2 separate regions of the Homo sapiens genome follow, and region 2 is linked to region 1. Evidence: fine-mapped expression QTL. A gene starts in region 1. The other region holds a variant in brackets. All regions are shown on one strand. Distances are between the middles of the regions. Region 1 holds the start of CEL (carboxyl ester lipase). Region 2 overlaps GTF3C5 (general transcription factor IIIC subunit 5).

What was found. PIP is the estimated chance that this variant, and not a neighbour inherited with it, causes the effect.
Region 2: its variant is the best candidate, but not a certain one, in a credible set for the expression of CEL in whole blood (INTERVAL, PIP 0.58).

The regions. Positions count from the first base shown.
Region 1 is chr9:133,057,675-133,065,674 of GRCh38, reverse strand. It overlaps CEL (carboxyl ester lipase), which reads right to left and starts at 3,694. Exons shown (of 11, transcript NM_001807.6): 1 at 3,607-3,694; 2 at 1,121-1,271; 3 at 913-1,035; 4 at 438-635. The coding sequence starts at 3,672. It overlaps GTF3C5 (general transcription factor IIIC subunit 5), which reads right to left. Exons shown (of 11, transcript NM_012087.4): 11 at 7,172-7,861. The coding sequence ends at 7,695. LOC124902325 reads left to right here and starts at 4,343. Exons shown (of 2, transcript XM_047424377.1): 1 at 4,343-4,926; 2 at 7,501-7,594. The coding sequence starts at 4,343. The coding sequence ends at 7,594. RefSeq lists enhancers at 3,979-4,731, 4,732-5,483.
Region 2 is chr9:133,037,128-133,045,127 of GRCh38, reverse strand. GTF3C5 (general transcription factor IIIC subunit 5) reads right to left here. Exons shown (of 11, transcript NM_012087.4): 2 at 2,822-3,041; 3 at 1,202-1,400. Among named protein-coding and RNA genes, the nearest start is that of GTF3C5, 10 kb to the right of the region's middle. The variant T/C (reference allele first, on the strand shown) is at 3,485.

The sequences.
Region 1 (8,000 bases):
AGGTTTCTCCATTTTAGTCAGGCTGGTCTCAAACTCCTGACCTCAGGTGATCTACCCACCTTGGGCTCCCAACGTGCTGGGATTACAGGGGTGAGCCGCCGCGCCCAGTCCCCAGCTAATTTTTAATTTTTGTGTAGAGATGGGGGTCTCCCAGTGATTTTCAGGCTGGTCTTGAACTTCTGCGCTCAAGTGACCCACCTGTGTGGGCCTCCTAAAGTGCTGGGATTACAGGCGTGAGCCATCTCTCCCGGCCTCTGCAGCATCTTTTATTTTACTACAGCTACCAAGGGCCTCCTGCATCTCATGATTCTACTCCAGCTTCCGGGTCTTTCTGTGAACCGCCACTGGTTGTTTGGGGTGAGGGGTGCTGAGGAAAATCTCCCTGCTGGGCTCAGCATGCTGGTCGCCCCACCTCAGGGCCGAAGGCACCCACGCACCTGGCAGATTGGCGTCCCCAGTGCTGAGGAACCCAAGGGGGCCGACACGGTAGTTGAAGGTGACCACGATGACGTTTCCGCGTGTGGCGATCTCCTCGCCGTCATACAGGTAGTTGTTGAGGAAGTTGGCCCCATGGCCGGACCCCATGAGGAAGGCGCCTCCATAGATCCAGATCATAACGGGCAGGTCCCGGGAGACTGAGATGGGGGAGCGGCTGGTGACCCCAGACGCCCCGCCTGGCCCTGTCTCCAGCCGGTCCCCTGTCCCTGTGCAGCAGGTGCCTGGGGCCAAGACAGGGAGGTGCTCCAAGGCGCTGCCCTGCCCCAGGCTGGGCAACGGCAGTGGGCGCTCCCCTCCCCGCCTCTGTGGGATTTCATGGAAGTTCAGCTTTGCAGCCCCCAGACTCAAGCCAGGAGTAGACCCGGGGCAGTGGCTGCATGGGAGGGTCCCTTGGGGAGTAGAGGGGAGGCAGACCTTGCTTCCTGCCCTGGGGCACCCAAATGTTGAGGTACAGGCAGTCTTCATCCCCGTAGGTGCTGTCCTGGGTGATGGTGGCCTGCAGGCATCTCTTCTTGAAGTTCTTGGCCTTCAGGGTCCCTGCAGGTGGCAGGAGTTGGCATGAGGAAGGCAGCCGCCCTCACCCGCCCCGCCGCAGGGCCAGTCCGGCACCACCCACTCCCACCTTGCCAGCCAGGATGTGGCTGAGGATTTTCCAGGGCCTTGGTGGGAGCTGCGAAGGGGATGCCCTTGAAGATGTCCACAGAGTCACCCAGGAGGCCGAGCTTCTTATTGACGCCTTCCACGAACCCACCTTCTGTGTACACGGCGCCCAGCTGCGAGGGAGACACGGGCAGGGTCAGGGGGGCTCAAGCCCCATCGGCCTGAATCCGGAGGGGGCAAGGCAAGCCGACTCCGCGTGCCCAGAGGCAAAGACAGCTTCAAAGCAGGACAGCTCTGCACAGGAGACCCAGGCAGCACCCCCTGCCCTGCAATGCTCAGGGCTTTAGGATTCCTGTTCCTCTCCTTATCCCTGGGGGTGTCCTGCTCCCAGAATCTTAGAGGAAACTGGTTCAACCAGTGTTCCCACTAGGGAAGCCGGCCAAGAGGTGGGATGGAGGTTTGGGTTCTGGCTATGGCCGCCCAGCTTTGACTCCGATCCTCAGTTTCCCCATGTGGAAGACGAGCAACAGCCGTGTCTCCTGTCGGCCTGTTTGCCATCACATGGGAGGCCTGTCCAGCTCCCGGGAGGAGTGTACCCAATGCTCAGTGTACCCGGGATGTTTCACACCAACCTTCCTCCTTTCTGAGGGGTGGGGCCTGCTTTTCCCTCCTCCCATCTCCCTGCACAGGGCCTAGCTGGCTGGGCACAAAGTCGATGGCCCCATGCCCAAGTCCCCACAGTTCCTGAGCCCCCTGCTGGTAAAGAACCCCCTAGGGACCACACCTCCCACCCCCGCCACGCTTCCCTGTGCCATGAAAATGGCCTCTGTGCACCAAGCTGTCCACCCCCACGAGGGGCCTGGAGGTTGGTGCTCATCCACCCTCTGTCCCTGACGGAACTGAGGCTGGGCAGCTTTTGGGCTTGAAGTCACCCTGTTGAGAAGCAGCTGTCTGCCCCAGTGCCACCTCCTGTCCATCTTGGGCAGCAGCTCCCTCTTCCCGTGGTGCATGGTGGGACCAGGTCATTGCTTGCTGGCTGTCACCTGTGCCAGGTTCCAGGTGGGGAAGGGCAGGGTGGCCCTACACCCCCAGGCCCAGCCAGGGTCCCAGCAGCCCTCTGAAGTCTAGGGTGATGGGCCCCCTGTCACACTGGTGTGGGAGAGTGCGGCGGTTGGAACTGGAGGAAAGGAACCAGAAGCAACACATGCAGGCATCGTGGGCATCCCCTGCGAGGCATCTGTGTCTCCTTGTGCCAGTGGCGTGATCCCTGTGCAATTGAGACTGGCCAGAGGGCCTCAGGGTGGGGAAATGGGGAGGGGTCGTGATGACCTGCCGAAGGCCTCTCAGCACCCCAAGAAGAGCTCGCCCAAGAAGAAGGTGACCTCTCCTTTGAGTCAGGAGCCCAGGACCACTGCCCAAACCTCCCGGTCCCAGGGCCAGGGAGTGTGGAGAGCAGGCAGCAGAGGTGGAGACAGGAGTCCCCAGGGCCTGAGACACCGCAGGCGGCAGAACAGCGTGGTTGGGATCTGGGGTCCCCTGTGTGACTCCTGCTGGGGGCAGGGACTGGGCCGGGCACCGACACCGGCTTCCTGTGGGGCTTGGGGTTTCTGTGGCTTCTCCTTCACAGGCAGAGAGGGTAGAATTTATGGATGCCTCGAGAGAGCTCCTGCCTGCCGGCTCTCTTTCTGGAGGGACCCGGACCCGGGTGTGGAGTAGCTCGGCTTTCAGCTTCCTGCACAGGAATAGGAGGCAGCAGCTGTGCCATGCTGGGCAAACTGCCTGCCTGCTTCTCTCCACCCGTCTGCCTGCTCTCCACACTCCCTGCCCCTGGGCCCGTTTCCCCTTCTGTAAAATGGGAACAACAGAGAGGTGGAATCACCAGGATTAGCAAATGTAAATTCAAGAGGCCCAGTTACATTTGAATTTCAGGTAAACAGTGAATTGTTTTTTAGTATGTTTCATTTTTTTCTTTTTCTATTTTTTGAGACAGAGTCTCGCCCTGTCACCCAGGCTGGAGTGCAGTAGCGTGATCTCAGCTCACCGCAATCTCCACCTCCCAGCTTCAAGCGGTTCTCCTGCCTCAGCCTCCCGAGTAGCTGGGATTACAGGCACCCACCACCACGCCCGATTAATATTTGTATTTTTAGTAGAGACGGGGTTTCACCATGTTGGCCAGGCTGGTCTCCAACTCCTGACCTCAAGTGATCCACCCACCTCGGCCTCCCAAACTGGTGGGATTGCAGGTGTGAGCCACTGCGCCCGGCCCATAGAAATTTGTTTCAAATATTGCATGGGACATACTTACACAGCAGTTCTTGGCAGTTTATCTGAAATTCAAATGGAATTGGGCATCCTGTGTTCTACCTGGCACCTGTCCCCATAGAAATGAGCGTGAGTGCCCGGGATCTGCTGCGGGGCTGTGCTGGGCTCTTTCTCAGCCTGGCCCGAAGTTTCCAGATCTGATTGAGCGAGAGAGCAGCAGGACCTGCCCCTCTGCTGGGCTCTTACCTTCGCGGCACTCGCCACTGCCCAGCAGCAGGTGAGGCCCAACACAACCAGTTGCAGGCGCCCCATGGTGAGCATCAGCCTCTGGGTGGCCCTCCCCCTGGGCCTCGGGTATTTATGGAGCTGGATCCAAGGTCACATGCTTGTTCATGAGCTCTCAGGCACTCCCTCCCCTCTACCCCCTCAGGTGCAGGGAGATCCAGTTTTCCCCAAACCCACAGTGCACCTGTGCAGGTTACCACTTACCTGGGAGCAGAGGCAGGTGGCAAGGTGGCGGGTGGTAAGGGGGATGGTGGGGCCGGGCAGGGTGCACAGTGCCCTGCCTTCTGGTTTGTTCACAGGGCTTGGTGTCACTGTCAGAGAAAAGGGCATACTTTGTCTCCATGTCTCCATGCCCTGCTTGTCCCCTAGGTCCCCAAAGGGGCTTCAGAGGGGACCGAGCACGTGACTTCTGGGACAGAAAGGGCAGCATGCTGCAGGCCCTCCACTCATGTGGCTGACCTTATCTGTACGAGCTTTTCCTGGGGCCCGTGGAGCGGGTAGTCCAAGCTGGGTGCGAATCCCAGAGCAGCACAAGGCAGTCCCACTCAAGGGTGTGGAAGTGTCACCATCCAGCCTGATGTGTCCTGGGAGGGAGGACTAGAGGCTCAGGGGGTGTGGGTGGGGGGGTGCGGAGGCATCTAGCCCAACCATGTAGGTTTCCCTGTGGAAACAAAGGGCCCAGCCGAGGCCCTGGGGCATGCCCAGGCAGAGTGACAGAAGGGGAGGGAAAGAGGCCAGTGGGAGGGAAGGGAGAAGGTCGTGTGAGGTTGTGGAGGAGGAGGCGACTCGTATTTTCTGTGAACAGGTATTAATCCTGGAGCCAGGAAAGGCTCTGAGAAGTGAAAGAACACCACGAACAAAGTCTTCAGATGGGGCCTTTAAGCTCAGCCAGTGTGAGGTCACCCTCACCGAGACACTCAGTGGCAGCTCCAGCCACCGCACAGCCCTCTGCAGTGATGGGAACAGGGTGAGGGCAGCCAGAGCCTTCCCACCCAACAGTCCCCCAGGAGACACTGGGGCCTGTGCTTCCCACACCAACCACACTCCCGTTCTGCCACCCCTGCGGCCGGTGCCAGGGACCGAGTGGACCTGCAGAGCCACGTCTGTCCCTCTGTCTGTCGACCACAGCCGGTGCCAGCAATTCAGGAGGCCTAGTGGGCGAGGGAGGCTGGGGAAAGGACTGGAGGGTGGGAGGAGGAGCTCGGCCACAGGAAATAAGGGGCCTGCAGGTGGCTGGGGCGCCCCAGGGCAAAGGCATTTGCCTCAGACCTTTGCTGCAGTGTCATTTACAGTGGCTAAGGAGGAAAGGGGAGGGCAGAGGGGAGGCAGCAGGGAGAGGAAGGAGGTGGGGGAGGGCTGGGGCAGGGCAGAGGGAAAGGAAGGCCCCAGTTTATATCTATGTACATTTTTAGAGCAGCTTTAGGTTCACAGCAAAATTAGAGGAAGATTACAGAGATTTCCCGTATGTCCTCGCCCCACTCCAGTCTCCCCCGTTATCAACATCCCCCACCAGGGGGTACAGCTGTTAACACCTGATGAATCCACATTGACATGTCATTATCACCCGGAGTCCACAGAGGTTTTTTGTTTGTTTGTTTTTTTGAGACAGGGTCTCTGTCACCCAGGCTAGAGTGCAGTGGCACAATCATAGCTCACTGCAGTCTTGAACTCCTGGGTTCGAGGGATCCTCCTGCTTTAGCCTCTGAAGTAGCTGGGATTACAGGCGTGCGCCATCACACCCAGCCGATTTTTGTATTTTTAGTAGAGACTGGGTTTCACCATGTTGGCCAGGCTGGTCTCAAACTCCTGAGCTCAAGTGATCTGCCCGCCTCAGCCTCCCAAAGTGCTGGGATTACAGGCATGAGCCACCGTGCCCAGCCTCATACTTTATTTTTTTAAAATTGGCAAAAAAAAAAAAAAAAAACTTATTTCCTGGCTCTGTCTCTTCCAAAGCCCTAGCAGTAACGAAATCCCAGGAGCAAGCCCCACCCCTGGTGACCAGACTGGGGTCTCTAAACACCATATTCACACCGACTGAGTGCACCCTGGGGAGATGGTTGGGCCGGGTCCGCAACAGGAAATGCCAGGGAGGGGCTGGAGCCTGCAGCATCGTGGTAGCTGTAAGTAAGGAAGGTGCCCAAGACCCAAGGCTTGTGTCAAAGGACTACAGAGGTCAACCTGAGGCCGCCTCTGGGCAAAGATAGACAAGTTGGGCATGAAAAAGCAAGCCTGCAATTGACAGACGTGAGAGTTCACCAGGCAGCCCAGGAAACACGCTCTCCACCCCCTCCTGCCCTGTCACTGGCCCTTGCCAGGGCACTAACTCATTGTTCTGAAAACTGTTAGAGGTGATAACAGGCATTTTCCCTTCTTTTCTGTGAAAATAGTATTTCAGGGTAATCAAACAGACGATGAGGAAGATTCCTTTATAGGATTCCAGCTACTAAATGCAGAGGGAACGATATAATTCAAAAAAATCACCATTTTGCACCCTTAAGGAAGTAGTAGGTCCAGGCAATTATCAACGGCTATTCAAAAGCCATTAAATAGGCTGGACGCAGTGGCTCACACCTGTAATCCCAGTACTTTGGAAGGCTGAGGCGGGAGGATCCCTTGAGCCCAGCCTGGACAACATTAGTGAGACCTCATCTCTACAAAAATTCAAAAATTATCTGGGCATGGCGGTACACAACCTGTAGTTCCAGCTACTCAGGAGGCTGAGGTGGAAGGATCACCCGAGCCCAGGAGGTTGAGGCTGCAGTGAGCCCTGATTGCATCACTGCACTCCAACCTGGGTGACAAAGCAAGACCATCTCAAAAAAAAAAAAAAGACCCACAAATGAAACAAAAAACCACAGAAACCCAAAAACCGTTAGATAAAAGACCAACACATCAGGCTGACAACACCTAAACCTGCTGGTCAATCCTAGTAAGCAGACCTCCCGTGCATGCAGACTGACGCAGCCTAGGAAGAGACCTTGAACCCGAATCTGGCTGAGCCTCCACCTGTCCCCAGGAAATACAGGGGAGAGAGGAGCAGGTTCAGCACCACACAGAAGCAACCAGCCAATCCAGAACAGGGCCATTCTCTGACAACTGACTGTTTCTTCAACAAATACTCGGCACGCACACAGGTTGGGAGGGAGTGCTGCTGCCGACTTGGGGAGACACAAGAGGTGCCTCAGCCAAGGGCAACATGGGGAGCGGGGCCAGGCAGGCAGGCTCGGTGGGCTCAGGACCCACTAGTTTCACACTGGGCAGCCACAGGACAGCAGGGCCCGTTTCCCATGACTTTGTCAAGAAGGTATTCATTTAGAGAAGAACTGACCCCAGGCCTGGAGTCCTCCTAGCTGCCCTCACCCAACCCGACCACATGTGAGGGGGGCACAGGCCAGCACTGCCAGCATGTCACTGAATGAATGAAGGAATGAATGAAGGAATATATGAAGGGACAAAGGGGGCCCAAGCCCCAAGGCAATAAGAAGACTCCCCTGCAGCGCCAACATTCACACCAAGAAACCAAGACTTCTCGGGAAACTGGTTTAATAAGGACAATTCCAGAGGGGCCTGGCTGTGGCCAAAGCTGTGCCAAACGGTTGGGATCCAGAGCTAAAGGCACTTCTTGCCACGTGAGACCATGGGCGAGGCTCCCCACGCTATCTCCACCACCACAGTCATGAGAGCCAAGCGAGACTGGCCTGTGGCCTGGGGCTCCACAGCTGCCCAGCTCCACCTCCGGCATTTACTGGTCTCATCCTGAGAGGCATTGGGTGCCCACTCACTGGCTGGATGCTGGGCTGGTTCATGGGTGGCAGAGCCAGGGTATACCCTTTGGGGATGTCCCTAACCCCTCAGGACCAGAGGCAGCACCAAGCAGCATGTCACAGCCAGTGCTAGGGTCAGCTGCACCCTTTGCTGGGACTCTAGCTCTCCTCAGAGGGCCTCCTAGGGCCATTCCGGGCACTGTGGGTGGCAATGGGGAGCCCCGGCTCCCTCATTAGGCCAGACACCAGTCTGGCCGGGTCAGGGAGGCCCAGCCTTGGGCCCTGTCACACGTAGTCCAGAATCTCTGTCTCCATTTCGTTTTCACTGCCGTCGGATGGCTTGAAGTCCTCCTCCTCCTCTTCCTCCTCCTCCTCATCCTCCTCGTCTTCCCCAGACTCGTACGTCAGCTGCTCTTTTCCGCCATCAGCCTTGGCTGAGCTGGAAAAGAGAGCTGGGGCCGGAGGAGACAAGGCCATGGGTGTCCCATGCAGGCTGCCGGGTGGCCCCAGAAAGGCCACCAGGCTCTGGGGAGCCTGTTTACTACTATAAGGGTCCGAGCTCGAGCTCTTAAGAAGCTGGTGGGTAAGTAT
Region 2 (8,000 bases), 21 kb after region 1:
TTCACAGTATTCAATCTTGGATTTTATATAAAGGAAATCCTATTCTTTTATGTCAATGTATGGCATTTGACAATTTGACTACATTTGACAATGCCCAGGCCTGCCTTTCCAACAGCCGCTGAGGTCTCTAATTATGTCAAGAACCTCTGAGTTACAGAATTCATTTCATCTGAATTGCATGTGGGCTTGGGCAGGCTGTGCACGGAGCCTGTGTGTGGGTGGCAGGGGGTGGCGGTGGGTGCACTATGAGTCACGTCCATGTGGCTTTTCATAGCTCTCGGTGTAGGAGAAACCCACTACTGATGAGAGAGAGTGAGCGCCTGTCCTCAGGAGAGGCACCGTGTTCTGGAGGGGACGCAGTCCATAACCAAGTACAGAGCAGGCGAGAGCTGTGTAGAGTCACAGATGCCTTGAGAAGGATGGCACTGGGCGATGGGCAGGGTCAGGGGTTCTCTGAAGCGACCTCCAGCCGCACAGGGCAGACCAGGAAAGGGTAAACAGCTGGGGTGAAGTAGGACCAAGGCTTGGCAGGTGAGTGTGGCAAAGAGAGGAGGGCAGGGCAGGGACAGATGATAAAGAGGCTGCAAAATCTCCGCCACGGACAGGGACGGTGAGGCCATGGGGAGCAAAGGAAGTAGGAAAGAGCTGGGGTCAGAGAGTGGGACATTCCCACGAGGCTTGCTTAGGTAGTGTCATTACTAGTGACAGCAAGGTCCAGAGACTGGCTGGTCAGCAATGACCAGGGGATTAAGCCAAAGGACATTTCTCAGCAGGAACCCACATGTCCCACAGTCACGTTCTTTGCACTGTCCTCAGGACTGAGGCCAACCTGGCGATCACACAGGCCACCGCTTACTAAGGCCCTGTTCTGTACTCAGCCCTGTGCTGAGAACTGCACACACTTTTTAAATTCAATCCCAATACGTCTGTTGGGTAGTACTACTGTCATCCCATTTTCTTTTTTTTTTTTTTTTTTTTTTTGGGAGACAAAGTCTCACTCTGTCACCCGGGCTGGAGTGCAGTGACGCGATCTTGGCTCACTGCAACCTCCGCCTCCTGGGTTCAAGTGATTCTCCAGCCTCAGCCTCCCGAGTAGCTGGAATTACAGGTGTGCACCACCACGCCCAGTGTGTGAGCCTCCGTGCCCGGACCATCCCATTTTCAGGATAGAGAACCGAGGCTGCATGGAGGGGGGCCTTACCGGTGCTGGGTCTCTGGTCGGTAGAAGTAGTCCACCGGGGCGTCCAGCCGGGAGAAGATGGGTGGGGGGATGTAGAGCGGCAGCTCCTGGTGGAAAAAGGCCTCCTTCTCGGGCCGGAGCATGAGCACCTTGTCATACATTGACGTATGCTTGCCGCCTGCTTCCGTATGCACAGCCAAGTACTGGAAGTCAGACATCCCTAGAAAGAGAGGTGGGCAGATGGCAGACATTGAGTCCAGGAATGGGCAGCTGCCACACACCGACACCCACATCTGCTTAGGGAGGTGCTGAGTGGGCCATGTGGTGGAGGCTGCAGGGTGAGGGTGGCAGGAAAACACACCCTTCCCAAATGCCTCTGCAAAGTTGGCTCCATGCAGTCTAAGTCACTTACATGAAAATTATTTTGGGGAGGTGGGGAGCTACATGATAGGTGAGGATGGAGTCCAGGTCAGTGCTTCTTAGATGAATGTTACTTTTAACTGTAAAACCTGCAATTACCTTTGCACCAACCTAGTAACATGCATATGAATCTGCTGGGATCTTGCTAAATGCAGGTTCTGACCTGGTGCATTTCTACCAAGCTCCCAGGTGAGGCTGATGCTGCCAGTCCAGAGACACACACAGAGCAGCAAGATGCTGGTTCAATTCGATGAAAAATATGAGGTGTTATGTTTTATGAATCACTTGGGAAACCTTGTCCCAAAAGAACAGCCCTCTTTGGTGAATGCCATGACCCACCAGAATGACTGCCATTAAAAATGCCCAACCCATGGGACCCCAGGTCCTGCTTCTCCTTCATTTCACTTTCTTCTTCCCCTCTTTTCTTTCTAGTCCTCTTTGCCCTTCTCAATCTTTATACTCTTCAGATTCTGCCTAGAACTGCAGATGTAACTTAGCCATCTCTAAGCCTTGTTAGTAATATGCCAGGCACCTCCTGTGGGCCAGAGGCTGGCCCATTCACAAGCATTGCCTCCCGGAATCTTCACGAGGGCCTAAGGAACGCAGGCTCTGTAGCCCGCACTGCACAGACAAGGACACTGAGGCTCAGGGAAGCCAAGCCACCTCCCAAAGAAACTGGCAGGGCTCAGGCAGGCACAATGCCAGAGTCTGTCTTTCTCACCCGTCTCCCTCCCTTGCTTTATTGCTTCCTCACTGGGGTTCCTGGTAGGTGGGAAACCTGATTGAGGGCTCCACGAGGGACGTTCAACCTGCTGAGAGTTCAGAGGAGGAGGAGGTCCCAAGGGGCTTCGGGAGCTAGGAGGGCAAGACCAACAGCAGCCGAGACAAGAGAAGGTTCAAAACACTGTGGTGGGGGAAAGACTGGAGGTCTACTGACCAGTTTTATTTGGTCCCACACAATGGTTTCATTAAAAATTAGGAGATTTCTAGCTTAAGAATGCTGAAGATTGGGCAGCAATGAACCTGCAGTCTCTGGGGAACTGTTGGCTGGAGGGAAGAAAGGCTGCCTCCTGGATGGGGCCTGTGCCCTGCTGTGTCCCCACAGCCCCTGGGCATATCCTGGCCCCCTCCACTGGTGCAGATGACCCACACAGCTCCTGCAGGCAGCTAGGATGGCCAGCCCTGAAATAACCAGACATTGCAAGAGCAGATTTCAGTTACCCTGAAATTTGTAAATGGTGGAGATGATGCCAAGGATCTCCATGTCAAATGTGACCTCGGAGTGGGCCTCAGTGCCCAGCACCCCTTTCTGCCGCCTCGTTCTCTTCCTGATGCGGAGCAGCAGGCTGCTGGTACTGAAGCGGTTGGCGCACACTGGGTGGCAGTATGGGTCCTTGGGCCGGAAGTACAGCTCCAGCCTCTTGGTGGGGTCTGCGTAGATCTGTGGCAAGGCCAAAGGAGACAGAGTGAAGCAATGACAAGCCAAGCAGCCAGTGGGGAGCTGCTCCTCTCTCAATAAAAGCCTGACGGTGATCCAGGAAAGGCCAGGAGGCTCATGTTTCATTCTGGGCCCTTAATTCCCAAAAGGCCCATTTTTTAAACCCATGTATCTTAGTTTTTATCTGGTGGAAAAAATGAGAATCGTCTCCTTCCTTCTAAGTAAATGCCATCATCCATCAAGTGCCTGCTCGGTGTGGGGCATTAGTTGGTCCTTCTGGCAACACTTGAGGGGAGATACTATCACCCTTATCTTTGTAGGGACCAGCCCCACAGGGTCGGTGGGTTTTTCTCCCTGTGTGTGGAGACGAGACTGCAGAAATAAAGACACAAGACAAAGACATAAAAGAAAAGACAGCTGGGCCCGGGGGACCACTACCACCAAAA[T/C]GCGGGGACCGGTAGTGGCCCCAAATGTCTGGCTGCACTGTTATTTACTGGATACAAAGCAAAAGGGGCAGGGTAAAGAGTGTGAGTCATCTCCAATGATAGGTAAGGTCACGTGGGTTATGTGTCCACTGGACAGGGGGCCCTTACCTGCCTGGCAGCCGAGGCAGACAGAGAGGGAGAGAGAGAGACAGCTTATGCCATTACTTCTGCATATCAGAGACTTTTAGTACTTTCACTAATTTACTACTGCTATCTAAAAGGCAGAGCCAGGCGTACAGGACGGAACATGAAGGTGGACTAGGAGCGTGACCACTGAAGCACAGCATCACAGGGAGACAGTCCCCCGGATAACTGCGGGCAGGTCTGACTGATGTCAGGCCCTCCACAAGAGGTGGAGGAGTAGAGTCTTCTCCAAACTCCCCCAGGGAAAGGGAGACTCCCTTTGCAGGTCTGCTAAGTAGCGGGTGTTTTTCCTTGACACTGATGCTACCGCTAGACCATGGTCCGCTTGGCAAGAGGCGTCTTCCCAGACACTGGCGTTACTGCTAGACCAAGGAGCCCTCTGGTGGCCCAGTCTGGGCATAACAGAAGGCTCGCACTCTTGTCTTCTGGTCACTTCTCACCATGTCCCCTCAGCTCCTATCTCTGTATGACCTGGTTTTTCTTAGGTTATGATTATAGAGCGAGGATTATTATAATATTGGAATAAAGAGTAATTCCTACAAACTAATGATTAATGATATTCATATATAATCATGTCTATGATCTAGATCTAGTATAACTTGTTGTTTTATGTATTTTATTATACTGGAACAGCTCATGCCCTCGGTCTCTTGCCTCAGCACCTGGGTGGCTTGCCACCCACAATCTTGGAGGTAACTCAGGCTTGGTGCGGGGTGGAGTGGCTTGTCTAGGGTTACCTACTCTAACAACTACCCACCATAAAGGGTCTTGGTATTTAGTCTCATATGCAAATGTTTCGAGGTCCAAATGAGATTAAATCAATCAGTAACAACCATTTGGGCTCTGACTTGCTGTTACCTCTAGCTTTCCAAGCACATGAAACTGAATACCAACACTCTTTTTGGTCCCTCTCCTTAAAAACCCCAAGAATAGCATCTATGTCATACGACTGTTATGATTAAATATCTATAAAGCACAGCTCCTGGTGCCTAACTCATGGTAGACATTCAATATGTGCCACGTACATATGAATGAATACTTGCCCAATGCTGGGTCACAACGAGCACTGGATGTGTGCATATGAAAGCACCAACAACGTGAACTGGGACAAGGTCACCTACGTGCTAGTGAGCTGGTTCCCAACACCCAGGACAGGGTCTGTCCCTTAGGAAGTGATCAGGAACTATCTCGGGAGAGAATGAAGAAGACTTGGTTCTCAGGAATCTCCTCCTCATAAAACACACACCTCTGAGTCCCGATGGGGCGGGAATGAACCCAAACGTAGGCCTGGCACAGGGGAGGTGCTCAAGAAACATGAGAAGAGTGAATGAGTAAGGAAGGTCCCTTCCCAAAGTGCTCACACTGTAATAATCCCTGAGGTTAGCGAGAGTAAGGATTCTGTCAAAGCCATAAATCAAGAGAATAATATAAAAGAAGAAAACGTGATTAACTGGGGCTCTACTGGCAGCCCGTGCTTAATGAATTCAGGGCTTTTCCATATTCATAAAGGATGAGGAAGCAGCAGGTAAAAGTTCAGACTCTAGAGCAAAGCATGAGTTCAAATCCCCTTGTACCATGTAGATGTCTGACCTAAACTTTCTTGTGTCTTTATCTGAAAAATGTGAATAAAAATGGCATCTAACTCACTAGATTGCTGTGAAGACTCAATCGTGCATTTGACAAGTATTTACAGAACTAGGCACTGTTATGGATGTTAGGAACAGAGAACTGGGCCAGGCATGGTGGCTCATTTAGCAAGATCCCGGCAGATTCATATGCATGTATTCCAGCCCTTTGGGAAGCCAAGGCAGGCGGATCGCTTGAGCCCAGGAGTTCGAGACCATCCTGGACAACTTAGGGAGACCACGTCTCTACAAAAAATACCAAAAACTAGCTGGGCGTGGTGGTGCATGCCTATAGTCCCAGCTACCTGGCAGGGTGAGGTGAGAAGATCACCCGAGCCTAGGAGGTTGAGGTTGCAGTGAGCCATAATTGCTCTACTGCACTCCAGCCTTGGTGACAGAATGAAACCCTGTCTCAAAAAATAAAAAAATAAAAATAAAGAAGTACAGAAGTGAACAAAAGAAGTCCCCACTCTCATGGAGTTGACAGTCTTAGGGTCAAGAGGACGAGAGACAGTAAATTTTTTTTTCCTTTTTTCTTAAATGTTTTATATGTATAAGCCTTTGTCAGAATAAACATTTTAAAACATTTTCAGATTGGAATTAACAGGATGAGGAGGCAGATAATTGCCAGTGGCCACTTTAGTTAGGGCAATCAGGGAAAACTTCTCTAAAGAGACACTTCAAGTTCTGGTACATGTAAAGAACTTACACATAGCATCCTCCAGCTGCCCCACTTGCTGTGTGACCTCGAACAAGTTCCTTCCCCCGTAAAATACAGACTCTGACAGTTCCTACCTGGTAGGGTTCTAAAGAGGACGGACTCTAAGTAAGGCACCTAGAGCCGTACGTGGCAGAGAATAAGATGTCAACCATCACTACCTCTAATCCTAACAACATAACAGTCTATCCCTCTCAGGTAAGTCAACAGAGCTTCATCTCCCCGTGCCTCAGTTTTCTACCCCGGGTAATGAGGATACGGCAGTGCAACACACCCTGTGGGGCTGCAGAGTTGCATTCCTGGCACCAGTGCCCAGGCTGTGGCTCACATTTGTGGATGGAATGAAAAAAAAGCCCCTAGGAGCCGGGCGCAGTGGCTCACACCTGTAATCCCAGCACTTTGGGAGGCCGAGCTGGGTGGATCACCTGAGGTCAGGAGTTCGAGACCAGCCTGGCCAACATGGTGAAACCCCAACTCTACTAAAAAAAAAAAAACAAAAATTAGCCGGGCGTGGTGGTGGGTGTCTATAATCCCAGCTACTCAGGAGGCTGAGGCAGGAGAACTGCTTGAACCCGGGAGGCGGAGGTTACAGTGAGCCGAGATCGCGCCACTGCACTCCAGCCTGGGCGACGGAGCCAGACTCCGTCTCAAAAAAAAAAAAAAAAAAGCTCCTAGGGGTCTCCCCCACAGTCCCTTCCCCTCTGTCCCCTGGGGAGAAAAAGGCTGTTCCTGGCAATTACAGATACCAAAGCCCTGCCCATTGGGCACCCAGAGTCCACCACACTCTCCGTTGCCAAGGAAACCACACGCCCGGGTAGACTCTCCCCTTCAGCCGCCGTCCAGCAACTCCGTCCCTCTCTCAGTGTCCCGGATATTAGATATCCAGGTTGAGTGAGTTCCTCCTCAAAGGTTCAGCTTGTTCAACTCCCTTCTTCTTTGTTCTCCATCTTCAAAGTCTAACTTCCTTGTTCTTTGCGCCTCCTTGCCCTTAGTTACCCGCTCTGTAACTGCCCTTCCCGCCGAAACTATTCTTCCTGGCGAAACCGCTCATCCAGCCACTGTAACCCACATCCCTGTTCTATTTGAAATAGCCAATCGAGATCAGCTTAGATTGTGCGGTCCAACTCCAGCCAGTGGGACAAGACACAGGAACCTTTCCTCCTTTGTTCCGTGTGCTCTGGTGGCCAGAAGAGCGAGCAGCACAGCACCTTTCTTCTGCAGAACTAAATGTGCTAAGTTTACTTCTGCAGAAGGGTGCTGCTCGCTCTTCTGTTTGTTCCCTTCCGTCTAGCGTCAGCTGCTCCTCAGAAGAGCTTTTTGTTTCAGGGGTAAAGGGAGAAGGATTTAGAGCAAAAATCTTAGAAGACGCAGAGTTCAAACATAAAAATCGAACAGCCCACGTTAAATTTCTGCTAATCCCTGAAGCAGGAACTAACCCGTTAGGAAGAGACTTAAAGTTAGGTATAGGTTTACATGTTAGCCCAGAAGGATTCCTCACCTCATTAAACCTACTTACCACCATGAAGAAAAATACATTCATCCCGATCTCTGGTCAAGGGAAGGGAATTGGGGAAGACTCCAAGTCCCACCCCCCCACCATACATATAAAGTTAAAAACCCCGGGGGGAAATAGTAAGAAGGAAGCAATATCCCATCCCCTTAGAAGGCAGAATAGGCCTAAAACCTATCATTGAGAGTCTCATTAGGGACGGGCTCCTTGAACCCGGTGTGTCCCCTTATCCCAATACTGCCTGTAAGAAAGTCAGATGGGTCATACTGACTAGTGCAAGGCCTCTGGGCCATCAGCCAGATATTCCAGACTACTCACCCTGTTGTCCCTAATCCTTACACCCTCCTCAGCAAAATTCCATACGACCATCAGTGGTTTACAGTAATATATTTAAGATGCTTTTTGGGCATGCCCCTTGTCTGAGGACAGCCGAGACATTTTTGCTTGCGAATGGAAAGATCCCCATTCCGGACGGAAGCA